3 separate regions of the Homo sapiens genome follow, and regions 1 and 3 are each linked to region 2. Evidence: fine-mapped expression QTL. A gene starts in region 2. Each other region holds a variant in brackets. All regions are shown on one strand. Distances are between the middles of the regions. Region 1 overlaps WDR27 (WD repeat domain 27). Region 2 holds the start of WDR27 (WD repeat domain 27). Region 3 overlaps WDR27 (WD repeat domain 27).

Region 1 (5,226 bases), 100 kb after region 2:
TTAGTTTTCCTTCTAACAGTCAGGACCCTCAGCTGCAGGTCTGTTGGAGTTTGCTGGAGGTCCACACCATGCCTATTCCAAAATTGACCACATAGTTGGAAGTAAAGCACTCCTCAGCAAATGTAAAAGAGCAGAAATTATAACAAACTGTCTCTCAGACCACAGTGCGAACAAACTGGAACTCAGGATTAAGAAACGCACTCAAAACCGCTCAACTACATGGAAACTGAACAACCTGCTCCGGAATGACTACTGGGTACATAACGAAATGAAGGCAGAAATAAAGATGTTCTTTGAAACCAACGAGAACAAAGACACAACATACCAGAATCTCTGGGACACATTCAAAGCAGTGTGTAGAGGGAAATTTATAGCACTAAATGCCCACAAGAGAAAGCAGGAAAGATCTAAAAATTGACACCCTAACATCACAATTAAAAGAACTAGAGAAGCAAGAGCAAACACATTCAAAAGCTAACAGAGGGCAAGAAATAACTAAGATCAGAGCAGAACTGAAGGAAATAGAGACACAAAAAACCCTTCAAAAAATCAGTGAATCCAGGAGCCGGTTTTTTGAAAAGATCAACAAAATTGATAGACCGCTAGCAGGACTAATAAAGAAGAAAAGAGAGAAGAATCAAATAGATGCAATAAAAAACAATAAAGGGGATATCACCACCAATCCCACAGAAATACAAACTACCATCAGAGAATACTATAAACACCTCTACGCAAATAAACTAGAAAATCTAGAAGAAATGGATAAATTCCTCGACACGTACACTCTCCCAAGACTAAACCAGGAAGAAGTTGAATCTCTGAATAGACCAATAACAGGCTCTGAAATTGAGGCAATAATTAATAGCTTACCAACCAAAAAAAGTCCATAAATAAATAAACCATAACTAATGTGAACAATTCAGCTAAATTATAGATGTTACTGAATAGCTCTATGTCAAATACCAATCTCTTCTTTTTGTCTAGTGCTTCTCCTGTCCTGTTTAAATAATCTTTGTTCACTTCCAAATCATGATGGTATTGTCCTCTGTGCTCTTTTGAAAAGCTTTATTGTTTTTGAGAACACATGGACACAGGAAGGGGAACATCACACACCAGGGCCTGTTGTGGTGTGGGGGGAGGGGGGAGGGATAGCATTAGGAGATATACCTAATGTTAAATGACGAGTTAATGGGTGCAGCACACCAACATGGCACATGTATACATATGTAACAAACCTGCACGTTGTGCACATGTACCCTAAAACTTAAAGTATAATAAAAAAAAAGAAATAACTTCAAGAACAGTTTTTATATTTTATTTTCACGTTGAAAATCATTCAAATTTGCTTCAGCCTCAAATAGCACGTTTATGTAAAGTTAAATGAGCGCTGGCAGTAACCTGCATTTTTAAATTCTAAACAGGAAAAGGGTTAAAAAAATAGACACTTATTTTCTGTCGGCTCTGGAGGCCAGAAGTCTGAGATGAAAGCATCAGCAGGGCTGGCCCCTTCTGCAGGGTCCAAGGGAGGAACCCCTCACGCTTCCCTGGCCTCTGTGGCTGCTACAGTCCCTGGGGTTCCTTGGTGTGTGGCTGCGTCATGCTGGCCTCTGCGTCCATCTCCAAGTGGCCTTTCCTCCTCTGCACATCTCTCGTTTCCCCGTTCTTTCTCTTGGGGACACTAGCTAGGTTTGAATGTCTCCTCCAGAACTCATGTTGAAATTTACTTGCCATTCTAGCAGTATTCAGAGGTGGGAACTTTAAGAGGTGGATTAGGCCATGAGAGCTGGCCCTCCTGCAAGGATTAATGCCATTACCATGGGAGTGGGGTCCTTACAAAGGGTGAGTTTGTCCCTCTCTTGCCTCTAGGCCCTTTCACCTTGTGCTGTGTGATTATGCAGAAGGGAAGCCTTGCCAGATTCTGGCTCTTTGACCTTGGGCTTTCCAGCCTCCAGGACTGTAAGAATATACATTTCCATTCTTTGTATATTACGCAGTTTCAGGTATTGTGTTATAGCATCACAAAACAGACTAAGACAACACTGATAATGGATTTACAGCCCACCCTAAATCCAAGCTGATCTCAATACCCTTCAGTTAATTTCTTCTGCAGAAAATCCTTTTTCCAAATAAGATCACATTCTTCATATTCAGGTTCAGCACTAGCTATGATGGAATAGCGTGAAACTAACTAGGGTGCCTATCAGAACTACTACACAAACCCTGGTTTAACTAGGTTATGAGATGCAAAGGGGCAGCTCACATTCTGTAGGTACTTTTTCTCTGAAGGAGTTTGCCATTTCTAAACAAAAAAAAAAAGAGACCTATGTTTCAGGCAAAGGCCATACAGAGGGATGCATCTGTGTGTGTGTGTGTGTGTGTGTGTGTGTGTGTGTGTGTGTATGAATGGTAAGAGGTGAAGTTGTGCATAAAAATTGGCAGAACTTTTTTTTGATATTGCAGGGATGTAGAGATAAAAACTTGAAAACTTTAGGGCCATGGAGGGTCAAGTGCCATGCCTGACACTACCAGTATTCCTGTCAACATATTTTATTCAATTCTGGAGCTAAGGAGGGCAAGAAACAGGTAGGCTCAGCAGAAGACCTTTAGAAGCAGAGTAGGGTTTTTAACAATATTTCAGGGCTGAGGCTATGAATATTAGAGGTCAGTACCTGCTAGTAGGGTGGGAATTCCCAATGGACACCTTAGCTTACCCCTGGATAAACCAGGAGTTGATGGAATCTCACCCAAGCTGCAATCCAGCCTTGAGTCTGCTCAACTCTGTTTATAGTAAGGAAGTCTTTTCTTGCTTCATCTGCCCACCTTTCTGGAGTACAATAATGTAATTTTGAGCCTTGGGAGTTTTTTTT[G/TG]TAATATACATAGCATTTAGCTTTCAGTCAAAAATTACAAGTATGTCAAGAGGCAAAAAATCAAGAAAAAAAAACATAATAGAAACAATACTATGGGTGACCCAGGTATTGGACTTAGCAGACAAGGTTTTAAAAATAACCATGATTAATATATTCAGGGAAATAGAGTACAAGTCAGAGACCACAGATATAAGGATGGAGAATTTTACTGCATTGTTGGACTTTCCTAGAACTGAAAGATATATCATTGGAAATTAAGAGTGTAGAGACAGAAGTGTTGAAAGTAGCAGGATGGGAAATGAAGCTGATATGATAATACTTTAGTGTAAAGTAGACTTTGGGTCTTAATGCATTACTAAAAATAATGAACAACATTTAATATGACAAAGATGCCAATTTATGTAGAAAATGTCATAAACCTGTATGCACCCAATAACGTAGTTTCAAAATATATAAATCAAAAATGATATAACTCTAAGAAGAAAAAGAAGTATCTTCAATCATAATGGAAGACTTTAACAAACTTCTCTTAATGACTAGAAATGACTAGAAAACAGATTATTGATGATCATGACACTTTTTAATGTAAATATGATTACACTTTTCTTTGTAAATACTATGTGTTTAAAATATTCTGCAAGCTCTCTATGTAGAACCAAGATCTTATGTGTGTCTTAAAAGGACTTTCACAACATGCCTCCAAATTACCTATCTTCTCTCTCTATTTTTTTCTATATCTCCTGATTTCTGTGTCATACAACTTCTAGATATCACAGTTTTTTTTAATAATACAAAAAAAAATAAGGATGAACCAAAAAATATTCTCACAGACAACAAGAGTACACCATAAAAATGTGTCTGCTAAACAGGTGAAAACTAATGATATATTTGCAAATTAGCTTAAGAAAGTTAAGAAAACACATAAAACATCAGAAATTGCTAGACAACAGGAATATATGAAATGAGAACTGATGAAAATTAGGAAAGCATTAGAAAAAAATTCAGAAATAAAGACCAAATACAAAGGAATATAATAGAAAGCAAATACAGAGAGCACAATAGGGAAAAAGGATACAAATGAGAGAAGTAAATAAAGAAAATGATAAAAGACATTCAAGATGAAAGGTAAATATAGAAGTTCGGTAAAAGAGATTCAACCTACATGTAAAAGGAGTCCCTGGACATTTTTTTAAAAAGTCAATTAAACAGAACAAATACTATGATAGTTCAAAAATATATTTTCTAAAATTAAAAAAATTTAGTTAAATCTAGATATTGAACGAATACCTGGGAAAATTGACTCAGACTAGTTTGCACAGAAATATAGCTTAACAAATCTATTTGACTATAAACATTAACAAAAAAACACCTTTGTGGATCCATGTAAAATGTTCAAATGCTTATAAGGGAAAGAGTATCAGCTTGGATTGGATTTTTGTAAATCATCTTTTTTTGTTAAAAAAACATTGGGAAGAATGTATTTTACTTACTCAAAAAGAGAATCTGAGTCAAGAATTTTAATATCCAGCTAAATTTTTTTTTGAGTATAAAACCAGACACACAGTTATGAATATGCCAGAACTGAATGGTGTTCCCTTGAGTTATATTGAAAAAAAAAAAAATAAAGCTGTATAAAACCAAGGTAAGATTGAAGAAGTTTCAGCAAAAGCCTCAAGGTGAGCACTGAATATGTTTAACTATGTAAGATAAAAAATGGGAATGAAGGTACCAGAATACTTTGTAAATATTCTATCTGTTATAGTTTAATAGTACAAAACTGGGAGATGTGAGAATATAACTAGAAAGTAGAATACCTCTCTTGATTCTCCTTGTAGATGTTAATTGAATAAGAAGAGATCAGTTGAAGCTGACAATAGAATTGTAAACTCTTAAATGTAATTAAGAGTATAAATATTAAGATAATTATGATTAAAATTGGATGTAGAGGAAGAGAGATGGAAAAATGGTTGCTAGACAACCTCACTATTGGGCATAGTAGGGAACTAACATGCATTGTCTTAGAGAGGAGTGGACCAAGAGTTTTGCATAAAGCTTTTAATAAAAGATAACTGCTGGAAGAAGAATTCTACCATTTTTAAGTGCCCAAAGAACTATCTAGATAGGACAAATAAAATAAACCGTAAACTGCCATACATTAAATAGAATTAAAAATAAAATACTATGATGAAACTGAGATGAAAATGTCAGTCATATTGATGTCTTTGTGGTTGTTGTTTTTGTTTATTTTTGAGTCTTGCTCTGTTAGCCCAGGCTGAAGTGCAGTGGCACGATCATGGCTTACTATGAGCTTGAACTTCTGGTCTCAATCCATCCTCTTGCCCCAGCCTTCCACATAGCT
Region 2 (5,226 bases):
TTGATTAAGTTTACATTTTTTCCTTAAATTAAGGAACTCATAGTGCCCTTCTCACCACAAAATCCAGAGAGGAATATCATTAGTGATAGCTAAGGCAGAAGAGTTTAGATGGGCTTAAAATTCAGTCCTGTAAAGATAATTTTTCATTCTATATTAACAATTTTTTTCCTAGGTCGCTGGATTTGTGACTGTTGTCAGCGGGCCCCCCCAACACCCAGGAAAGTGGGCAGAAGGGGGAAAAACAGCAAAGAGGGATAAAATAGTTTTTGACTCTAATACTGTATATGCATTTAAGTGGAATATTTGGTGCCATTTACAACATTATTTTCATGCCAATAAAAGATTTTTTTTGCAAATTATGAGCTTAAAATCTGCAGTTATTTCTGTTAAAAGCTACGCTTACTCTCGAAACTAACTCCAGGTAGAGAATTCATCTTCCAAAGTATTTTATAGTAACCTTGGCTCACTCCAAAAATTCAGTGGAAATGTTTAGTAACTTAAGATACTTAACTGTTTCTCCATAGCCCCAAAAGTTAATTTTCATGAAACTTCCTAATCTACATTGTTTCCGGCCTACCATAGGTAGCACTGACAAAGTTATTTAATAACTGAAGAATTTTCATAGGTATGACAAATGGCCCACTAAGATTTGGTGCAGCTGGATTTAGAGTTGTCATTATTGGACTGGTACAGGAACAAACTTTGTAAATACCTGCCTGCCAGGAAATCCTTTTTGTATAGAAAAGTACCATCACCTACTTGGGGTACAGGCATGAGGCTTTAGTCCAGGCTCAGGGAAGTGTACGTAAATCATTTCCAACTTGATTTTAGTAACTCTTGAAAACTTACACCAACTTCGGTTAGAATCTCCAGAGTAAAATTACAAAGTTATCAACCTTTTGATTTGTGTCACAGCATGAAAGGTTGCTCTATTTTATATAAACCTGTTACTGCAATCATTTTTAGTCAACCTGCCTAATGAAAATGGAGTCTAAACACTTTGTGCACAGTCCTTTTATAGGAATTATGATCTTTAAAATACTGTGCTTGCTGCTTTTCCTATTTTTGGGGTAACTGAGGTAACAAAACTGCGTATGGCTTTATTTTTCCATCCCTTGACTAAAGGTACCTAGAACTTCAACCAAGTACAAGTAGCAAGGTTCACAGCAAACTGCAATCAGCTTCACAGATGGAGGGTTTTATATCCCAGAGTGTGGTCAACGACTCAAAAGAGAATTTCAAGTACCAGTTTCAAAATGCTAATTAATATCGTCCAGAGAACAGATTCCTCCTCTTGCGAGGCGTCTTCCGGGGCACCAGCGTGCTTCTGGCCGGCATCTGCGCCGTCGGCGGGGTAGGCGGCCTCGCCGAACGGGTGCTGCTCGACCGTGCCGTCGTAGTACACCTTCATCTCGAACTCGCTCTCCAGGTGGGAGGGGTGTCCATAGACGCCGATGCCCACTGGGCGCCGGAAGTGCGCGGGGATGGACACGGCGTCCGGGCCGCAGGTGGCCGATTGCAGCTCGTAGTCGTCGAAGCTGGGGTGCAGGCTGCTGGCGGAGACGTACAGATCCGCATCTCCCTTGAGGCTGCGCATCCTGAGGACTATCTTGCCCTCGTGGTTCAGCCGCAGGTAGCTGTAGTTCCCGGCGCCTATCTGGCCCTGGACGACGTGCAGGAGCACCCACTCCTCGGGGACCTCCTCCTCGTCCGCGCAGCTTCCCGGAGACAGGACCTGCGAGGCTAGGAGCAGCAGCAGGGCCGTCGTCCAGGGCGCGGCCCTCCCGCGGGGAGCGGCCATGGCTGGCGGCTCAGCTCCGGGGCCTGCAAGTGGGTCAGTGCTGCTGGGGACACCGGAGGCGCTCAGCACCGGAGCCTGTCCCCGCCGTCCGCACGCGGGTCCACGGCGCGTCCAGGCGCCTGGTCTGTCGCTGGGACTGTCCCTTCCCACCCGCGTGAGGCCCCGGGGAGGAGGGGTGGGTTAACCCCTCCCCCGTAGCGCGGCGCCCACTCAGGGCAGGGGCAGGGGCAGGGGCAGGGCCGCTGTGGCACCCTCGGACTCACCACCACTCCCCGCAGGGGGCCGCGCTTTATACATCCGGACCCGAGGCCGGAGCCTCGCCGGAGGCGGAAGTGACGCTAGGTCCGTAAGTGAGCCGGCCGGAAGCGAGGCTTCTCCAGCTGTCGCGAGATAGCGAAAGGGGCGTGGGCGCGAGGGGCGGCGGGCTAGTAACCATAGCGGCTCGCGTGGGTCGGCTGGCAAGTAACCATAGCGGCGAGCGTGGGGCGGAGTGTGGCTCGGTAGTCCTCTGCGTGCCCTCCTGGGAGCTGGGTGCTGTGAGTCCTCCCCTAGCGGGCTGGTCTCGGCGCGGAGTCGGCGCCGAACCCGAGCTGCTGCTCTGGGGCGTGTGCCTAGGGCGCAGGGCTGGAGCGCGGGGGCTGCGCGGTTGCTCGCGGCTCCGCTGAGGTCTCTAGGAAAGGGGGCGATTTGAGGGTTCCGCCGTGACCGCTTCCAACGGCGGACACGCGCGCTCTGGACCAGAGCCGTTGCCCGCTGTCTCGTCACCCGAAGCCTCCTCCTGACGCCGTGCTAGTGCGAGGGTCTCCAGGGGAATTCGGGGCACAAGTCGGGCCGGAGCATCCGGGCGGCCGCTTGAGATCGGCGCTTTGAGAACTGAGCGCATGTGGAGTTCGGAGGAAAAGGGCTCAGGTGGTTATTTTAATTAAAGCAGCTGTGTATAAGGAGCACTCAGATCTCTTTAAAAGATTCAGTAGTTTAGGAACGAACCAGGGCTGTAGAAATGCCCGGCCTCCTGCACCTCCCGTCGGTTCTGAGCTCCGAGGGCGGGAGCGTGGACCCTGAGGGCTCGTTAATTATGCCCCACTGGCCTTTCAACCTGCGTGGTAACTACCAGGCTAGGTTTTCCTAACTCGAGCCAAACAGCAAGTTTCTGACTTGATTATCACTAAAAGAGAAAAATTTCGATCTTTTCTAATCAGAAGGGAGTAATTTTCTCTTTTTAAAAATATTCGTATGTACATTAAAAAAACGGAAATGCACAGGATTTTATCAGTGGTACTCCTCGAGTAGTAGAGTTTTCATCTTTTTATGTATTTCTAAATTTTCTACAATTTACACACACTGCTCTGTACCAGTAAAGGAGTATTAACTCTACAGCTTCCAGTTTATCTGGGATTACTATCTTGTGTTTACTGACTTAACTTTAAGACTATGGTATCTTTAGCAATCACTTGTCACTGCCTTTTCCTGAAGTGCTTACCTAGTGTTAGGTGCACTAGAATCTCACTAAAATAATAAATTTAGTTTATTTTCCCTGACTTGTTCTGTGCATGTATGTACATGGATATTCCTGGGGATATCCTGTGACATTGATTATCCCCTAGGGTTGGCACAGCAGGGAGAGGAGGTAGGGATAAAAAACTTTATTATTTCTGCATTGTTTAAATGTTTTGTATTGTATTGCTTTTGTAATTCAAAAAAATGTTAAACAATTTATATTAGTGGAGGTAGGTTAAGTGCTGTAGCAATTCACCCCAATAGAACAGTTGCATGTTTCTTGCTCACACAGTCCTGTGTAGCGGTTTCTAGTCAGACGATTCCTTTGGGCAGCTCTCTGCAAGCTGCAGCCTAAAATTCTTCCATGTTGTGGTTTTTTTCCTTAGGCCCTCTGAATTCTCCGCATTTAGCCAGTGGGTGGGGAAAGAAGAGAGGCAGTGCAGGAGGAATTTATGGGCCAGGCACTCAACGACTACATGGCTGCACTTAATTGCAAGGGAAGCTAGGGAGTGTAGTTTAGTTCTGTGTCTAGAAGGAAAGGGAAGTGGCTTAGTGGAAAAGGAACAGCACTTACCGTAGTCTCTCTTCTGGTGACCAGATCTCTGCTCCACTCTTGATCCCACATGGAGAACACACTCTCCCCACCCCAAGGGGGACACTTTGTCAAGGTGCCTAGTGCAACACAGAACATTTCTCAGGATTGCACAGTTCTCTCCATCAGGCCTGGCTGTGGTTCCTCGTGGTCCAGAGCCCTATGGACTAAGAAGACAAACTAGTTGCTCTCCCCACTAAAATGCAGTGGTTAAATATGACCATGGTTTTTGTAACCATCTCCCTTTTGGAAAAGGGAGACACATGGCAGACACTGGTCTATAGCAGTTTTGAAGTGATGCTGGGGTGGAGGTGGGAGGAATTTCCCAACTAGACCCTGATTCTGCTATCTGGGAGGAATTCCCTTGTCCATTGTTCTTTTTCTTTCCTTTGAGACAGGATGTCACTGTTGTCCAGGTTGAAGTAGAGTGGCACAATCACAGCTCACTATAGCTTCAACCTCCGTGGCTCAAACGATCCTCCCACCTCAGCCTCCCCAGCAGCTGGGGCTACAAGCATGCACTGCCACACCTGACTACTTTTTTTTTTTAAAGTAGAGACAGGGTCTCACTATGTTGCCCAGGCTGGTCTTGAACTCCTGGGCTCAAGTGATCCTTCTGCCTCGGCCCCACAAAGTGCTGGGATTGCAGATGTGAGCCACTGTGCCTGGCTTGTTTGCTGAGGCCCTTGATTCTACCCTTAGTCCTTTTCCTCCACGGTCTCATCTGATGTGGCTATGAGGATGCTGTCTTGGAAGGCTGCCATAGCTCACTCCTGGAGCATGGCAGTGGGGACCAGGCAGTCAGCCCTGAGCCCACCGTGTGCCCTTACTCTGTTCTTTGCTTGATACTTCTTAGGCTTCATCGTGTCCTCACGAGCACAGCAGCTTCTGGTCTGTGTGTATCTCGTCAGCTCTGTGTGCTGGTGATGCCATTGTCGTTCTTCCTGTGTCTACTGTTCAAGCCTGACTTTATTTTCTTTTGGTCTCCTGGGCAGCTGATACCCTGAGGTTATGTGGAACAAAGGCTTGAGTGGGAAGGTAGCCATCCTAGGTCAGATCTTTGCTGAAGGGCCAAGACCTGATGGTCCTTTGTCCCTCCCTGCAGCCTCTCAGGGCACTCAGGTTTCCCAGTGCTGCAGCCCCTGCTCTTCGTACTTTCTTTTCGTGTCCATTCCGCTTGCACACCAGCCAGTTCTCTAGTCCAATTCCGTGTGTTGGCTGCTAATGCGTATTCTTTGCAATAATTTCCTGTAGGGCTGCAGGAGAGTAAGCCTGTGGTAAGTTTTCTGCGTTATTACAGGTTGTTGCAGTTGAACCTGTTTGTCACTGCCTAACG
Region 3 (5,226 bases), 130 kb after region 2:
CACGTTCTGGGAACCCTGCTTTCGAGTGTGTCACCTGGGGCGGATGTGGCACTCACCGATCTTGTTTCAGGGAACTCACATCACTTTTGAAAAGCGGGAGACAGATTCCATGACTTGTTTTTGTTTTGTTTTAATACATTTTAATTGTGAGAACGATTATCCCCTTTCCAAAACTAAAGTTTTGAGCCTCTCAGAGTAAATTTCTAGATACGCTTAAAAAAAAGTAATGTTTTTCATCACTGTTACTGCTCAGTTGTCAAAATAAGACTTGTGAGTCTTTGGGAAGAAGAGGATTATACTTGTACTTACAAAATTATTCTAACAATGCCTGTGGCTAAGAGGACCCTCAAAATGAGTAAGGAACTGTAACAGCTCACAAGGGACCACAGGCTCTGCAGAGTGGCTTCGGAATCCAAGACTCTGAAGCACACCTGGGTGTCCTGCCAGGAACTGCAGCTGCGCGCCACATGCGCCCTGTCAGATGTGACTTAGGGATGCGTTGTCAGCTTCAGTTTGTTGGACATCTGAGGACAGTGGTATATTTGCCATAAGATATCAGTGTAGCTGTTTAACTGCTTAGGATGGGAACACAAATTCAAGAAGCTCCATAGTTAAATTATCCTGGCTGAGATGGTAGCCAAGCAAGACTTATTTCCAGCAAAAAACTAGCAAGGCAGAAGTATCTCAAACCACAGATGCAAAAGACGAAAGAAAGCTGTGATGTAACTGATGGGTCCCTGAGTGTGAAAGTGTGGGCTGCAGAGGGAGCCTACTGTTCACACAGGGAGTTCAGGAAGAACAGGAAGCGTGCAGGTTAAGTATGGAGAAAGCTGCTTCACACGCGGATACACAGAGATATAATTTATTGGAATGGATAGCAGAGTCACAAATATCACATTACCTTATATTATCAAATTGATTTTATATTACTATCGCAATCATCAATTTTCTATTGTCAGTTGTAAAATAGTTACAGTCATCCCTCGGTCTACATGGGGGATTGGTTCCAGGTCCCCCGTGTGCTCCCAAATCCTCACACACTCAAGTCCTACAGAACCCACATAGTCTGCCCTCCATTTGCCTGGGTTTCACATCCTGGGGGGCTGTATTTTTGATCCGAGTTTGGTTGAAAAATAATCCATCTATAAGTGGACTTGCACAGTTCAAACCCTTGTTCAGGGGTCAACTGTAATGAAATAAAAGAGGATTAATGTAAGATGATATAAAAACTTTTCATATTGTATTGGGTAGTTGGGCTTTATTTTCAATTTTGCATTTCTCAGTTGTGCAGGATTTATCATAAGACTTGCTTTGGTCTTTCCAGCTATACTGAGTTACATCTAAACCATGTCAGTACTGTTACCCTAGAACACAATGTAGAAACTTGGGGGGTTCTCGGAGAGTTTCAGTGAAAGACAAGACACAGACGAAGGCGGAGGTCTGCGTGCAGAGCCCAGGTGCACCCCGGGAGGCTCGGGCTGCAACACAACCTCCTGGGAAGGGAAGAAAGCAGGAGTGCGGAGGGAAGGTCTGCAGGGTGGCGTGGGGACGGCTCTGTTTTGGGGGCTGGTATGCGGCGCATTGACACATGCAGGAAAGGCAGAAACAGACATTTGCAAACTGATTTATCTATAAGTAGTTATATCATGTAGAGTGGACATTGACATGGTTTTCAATATTTTGGTACTATAAGTAGTGTTTTGATGTATGTCTTTGGGCATAAAATGTTTTTTGTATCTGGGTTTATTTTCTCAAGATAGATTACTTTCTCAACAAGTAGTATTACTGAGAAAAATAAACTTTTAAAGGGTTCTGCTATAGACAAATGCTTCTCAAAGTGTTTCCTCTTGTTTGCTTCCTCACCAGCTTTGGTTGTTCACACTTGCATTACGTTTGTTAATTATCAAGAAACAGTAACTCCCGATTTTAATTTACTGCTCTTTGAATACTAATGAGATTGCACATTGTCCCACAGGCTACTAGGTATTGGAATTCTTCTAATTTTTTTTTTTTTTTTTTTTTTTTTTGAGATGGAGTCTCGCTCTGTCGCCCACGCTGGAGTGCAGTGGCACGATCTCGGTTCACTGCAACCTCCGCCTTCCAGGTTCAAGCAATTCTTCTGCCTCAGCCTCCCGAGTAGCTGGGATTACAGGTACCCACCACCACACCCAGCTAATTTTTGTATTTTTAGTAGAGACGGGGTTTCACCATGTTGGCCAGGATGGGATGGTCTCGATCTCTTGATCTCGTGATCTGCCCACCTCGGCCTCCCAAAATGCTGGGATTACCGGCGTGAGCCACCACGCCCGGCCCAGAATTCTTTTAATTTTTAAATTGCATGTTTATATCCTTCATCTCTTTATACTTCAGACTCAATGTTTTACCTAATGATTGCTGTAGCTTTTAATTTAAAACTAAAATTTTCATCTTTGTATTTACACTATATGTTTCCTCTAGATTTGGTTTGGCTTTTTGTGTTTTGTTTTCTTTTTCCAGTTTGATTTATTCTGATTACCTTAGGCCTAGAAAATTTTTCCTCCAGAGATCTGTGTCTCTGCTGAAATTACAGAACTTTTAACATATTATAATAATTTTTAATTCCTGACTGACAGTGCCAATATCTGGGTTATTTCTGAATATAGTTCTGTTAATTGCTCTGTCGAGAGACAGTTGATCTCCCTCCAAACCTCCCCTGCTCTTTGGTGTGTGTTGTAGTTTTTTGTTTGTTTGTTTTAGACAGGGTCTTGCTCTGTCACCCAGGCTGGAGTCCAGTGGTGTGATCACGGCTGACTACAGCCTCAAACCCCCTGGCTCCAGTGATGCTCCCACCTCAGCTTCCTGAGTTGCTCGGACTGGCAGTCTCAAGCCACCACCCCCGACTAATTATTTATTTATTTATTGTTTGTATTAAGATGGAGTCTCACCAGTTTGCCTAGGCTGGCCTTGAACTCCTGGGCTCAAGCGATCCTCCTGCCTCGGCTTCCCAAAGTGCTGGGATTGCAGGTGCGAGCTGCC[G/A]CACGTGGCCCAATGCAGTTTTTGAGTGGTTGCTGGGTGTTGAATGTGGAACGTAAATGTTTATGCCAGGATAGCATGGCTCTTTTCCTGCTAATTGCTGGTTTGAGTCCGAAAAGTTGGGAATTCAGCTGCATGTCGTTCACTTTATTAAGACTTTGATGAGAGTGGGGTTATCAGAAGTAATCTGTGTGAGTCATTGTACAAATAGAAATGCAAAGACAGCATTGTTAACTTCTGGGAAACTTTAAATCTCCAGTATTCTTCATTGAGTCATCTTTTTATTTATTTTTTTTTTAATTTTTTTCTGACTAAGGTATGTGGGTGTGAAATTTAAATCTGTTTTATTTAGGCTGTATTACTTTGAGAGTTGTGGTTTAGCTTTGCCAGGGAAAAATGACATAAGCATATACCTGGAGGAAAGGTTACATTCCTTGGTTTTTACATGGGATAAAAACCTGTGATATTTGTGATCACTGTATCCGCTAATTTATAAATTCAGGAGCAAGATTGCACTATTTCTTTCTAAGAACTCATAATTGAAACAGTCTGCTCTGTGGTGATGCTTGTATACAGAGAATACCGGGCAGGGAGTGGGCCTGGCCGAGAGGGCAAGGCTGAGGTGCAGCTCCTGCTGTCCCCTCCTTCCTGGCCGCCACGGGAGACTCCTGGCCTGCGTCCTGTCTTATGAGGAGAGATTTCCTAAATAGAGCTTTTTTCTTTTTTTTTGAAACGGAATTTCGCTCTTGTGGCCCAGGCTGGAGTGCAATGGCACAATCGCAGCTCACTGTGACCTCCGCCTCCCAGGTTTAAGCAATTCTCCTGCCGCAGCCTCCCGAGTAGTTGGGATTACAGGTGCCCGCCACCACGCCTGGCTAATTTTTGTATTTTTAGTAGAGACGAGGTTTCACTATGTTGGCCAGGATAGTCTCCAACTCCTGACCTCAGGTGATCCGCCCGCCTAGGCCTCCCAAAGTGTTGGGATTACAGGCGTGAGCCACTGCACCTGGCCAGTTGAGCTTTTTAAAGATAACAGAAAGGACTGCTGAGAATGAGTAAACCTATGTCCGTAAAGAGAATTGCATGATTTACTGCAAGTATTCCTGGGAGTGAAGCATCACGTACACACTGCTGGTCTCGTGTCCTCCTGAAGATAGCCCCTCACACTTCACAGTGGTTGGAGAAGGTTCTTTTTCTCTCCTGTCTTCCCTCTGGGTCCCACCTGGTCTAGCATTTTCATCTGTGTTGAAATTTGTTTTTCATTTCTGTTTTAGTCCTTGTGTTTGTCCTTGTTGAAAGTTAAGTTGTCAGCTACCCAGGTCTTTCTCGTTGACTAAACCACCCCCCAACCCCATGCTCCATGAAGAGCACCTGTGGTTTCCTTGTGGCCATGAGTGTTGTGGTGGGACCAGCATCAAGCGCAAGAGATCTGCCGAGTCCACGTGGATACACTATGACCCCGCAGACCATGAAGGTAGATGAGGAGGTAATGGCATTCCGTGGTGCCCAATGTGATGGCATCAGGGTTCTTCCTAGCAGCATGGAAGACACTCCTGCCCTCAAGAGGGCTAAGTCCAGTAAAACCCAACCAACAGGAGATAGTTGGGCAGGAAGACTCATTCTGAGTGTAGATGGCTCTGGGTTTTGTGAGAGGGTGAAATCTTTGGTCGTTAAACAATTCTAGCTGCCCTAGAATGGTAACCCCAAGTCACTTCAGACTGGAAAAGATTTTAGTGGCTAGAATTAAATGTAGAGATGGCAAAATACACCAAAGCCACAGCATTAATAGACTTGCATGAATTTAGGAATAACCTGGAATAATTAATATTTAAGGCATTTGCAATGCTTTAAGGATGTTGATATTTTAAAAGATCTGATTCTAATTTGACATCTGTATTGACCTTGGACTTGTGACTTCTTAGTTGAGAAAAAAAGGAAAATATTACTAAGTTTATAAGTATTTAAATTTTTAAGAGAACTTAAAATTCACCATATTTATGTTTGCTTTGTTAGATTTTTAATAATTGATTAAGAACTCAGGACCATCTTACATTTTATTTTTGTCATTTAAGTATTCAAGAAAATCTTATATAGTACATTTAAAATGAAGCTTAACAATTTTAAAATACTTTAACAAAGTTGTAACTTTAACTCATTGCCTGAGGGATTTAATCTGTTCATTGTGAGTTAACTGAACATGAATCAAAGGCTACT

What was found.
Region 1: its variant is fine-mapped to the expression of WDR27 in atrial appendage (GTEx, PIP above 0.99).
Region 3: its variant is fine-mapped to the expression of WDR27 in whole blood (INTERVAL, PIP above 0.99). The same link has a PIP of 0.9 or more in aorta.

What each region holds. Positions count from the first base shown.
Region 1 is chr6:169,595,051-169,600,276 of GRCh38, reverse strand. All of the region lies in intron 23 of WDR27 (WD repeat domain 27), which reads left to right. Among named protein-coding and RNA genes, the nearest start is that of WDR27, 100 kb to the left of the region's middle. The variant G/TG (reference allele first, on the strand shown) is at 2,868.
Region 2 is chr6:169,699,035-169,704,260 of GRCh38, reverse strand. WDR27 (WD repeat domain 27) reads left to right here and starts at 2,232. Exons shown (of 26, transcript NM_182552.5): 1 at 2,232-2,710. C6orf120 (chromosome 6 open reading frame 120) reads right to left here and starts at 2,135. Exons shown (of 1, transcript NM_001029863.3): 1 at 1-2,135. The coding sequence starts at 1,801. The coding sequence ends at 1,226. PHF10 (PHD finger protein 10) reads left to right here. Exons shown (of 12, transcript NM_018288.4): 12 at 173-359. The coding sequence ends at 258. RefSeq lists a silencer at 1,769-2,138 and enhancers at 2,189-2,278, 2,599-2,678.
Region 3 is chr6:169,569,345-169,574,570 of GRCh38, reverse strand. WDR27 (WD repeat domain 27) reads left to right here. Exons shown (of 26, transcript NM_182552.5): 25 at 2,031-2,152. Among named protein-coding and RNA genes, the nearest start is that of WDR27, 130 kb to the left of the region's middle. The variant G/A (reference allele first, on the strand shown) is at 3,016.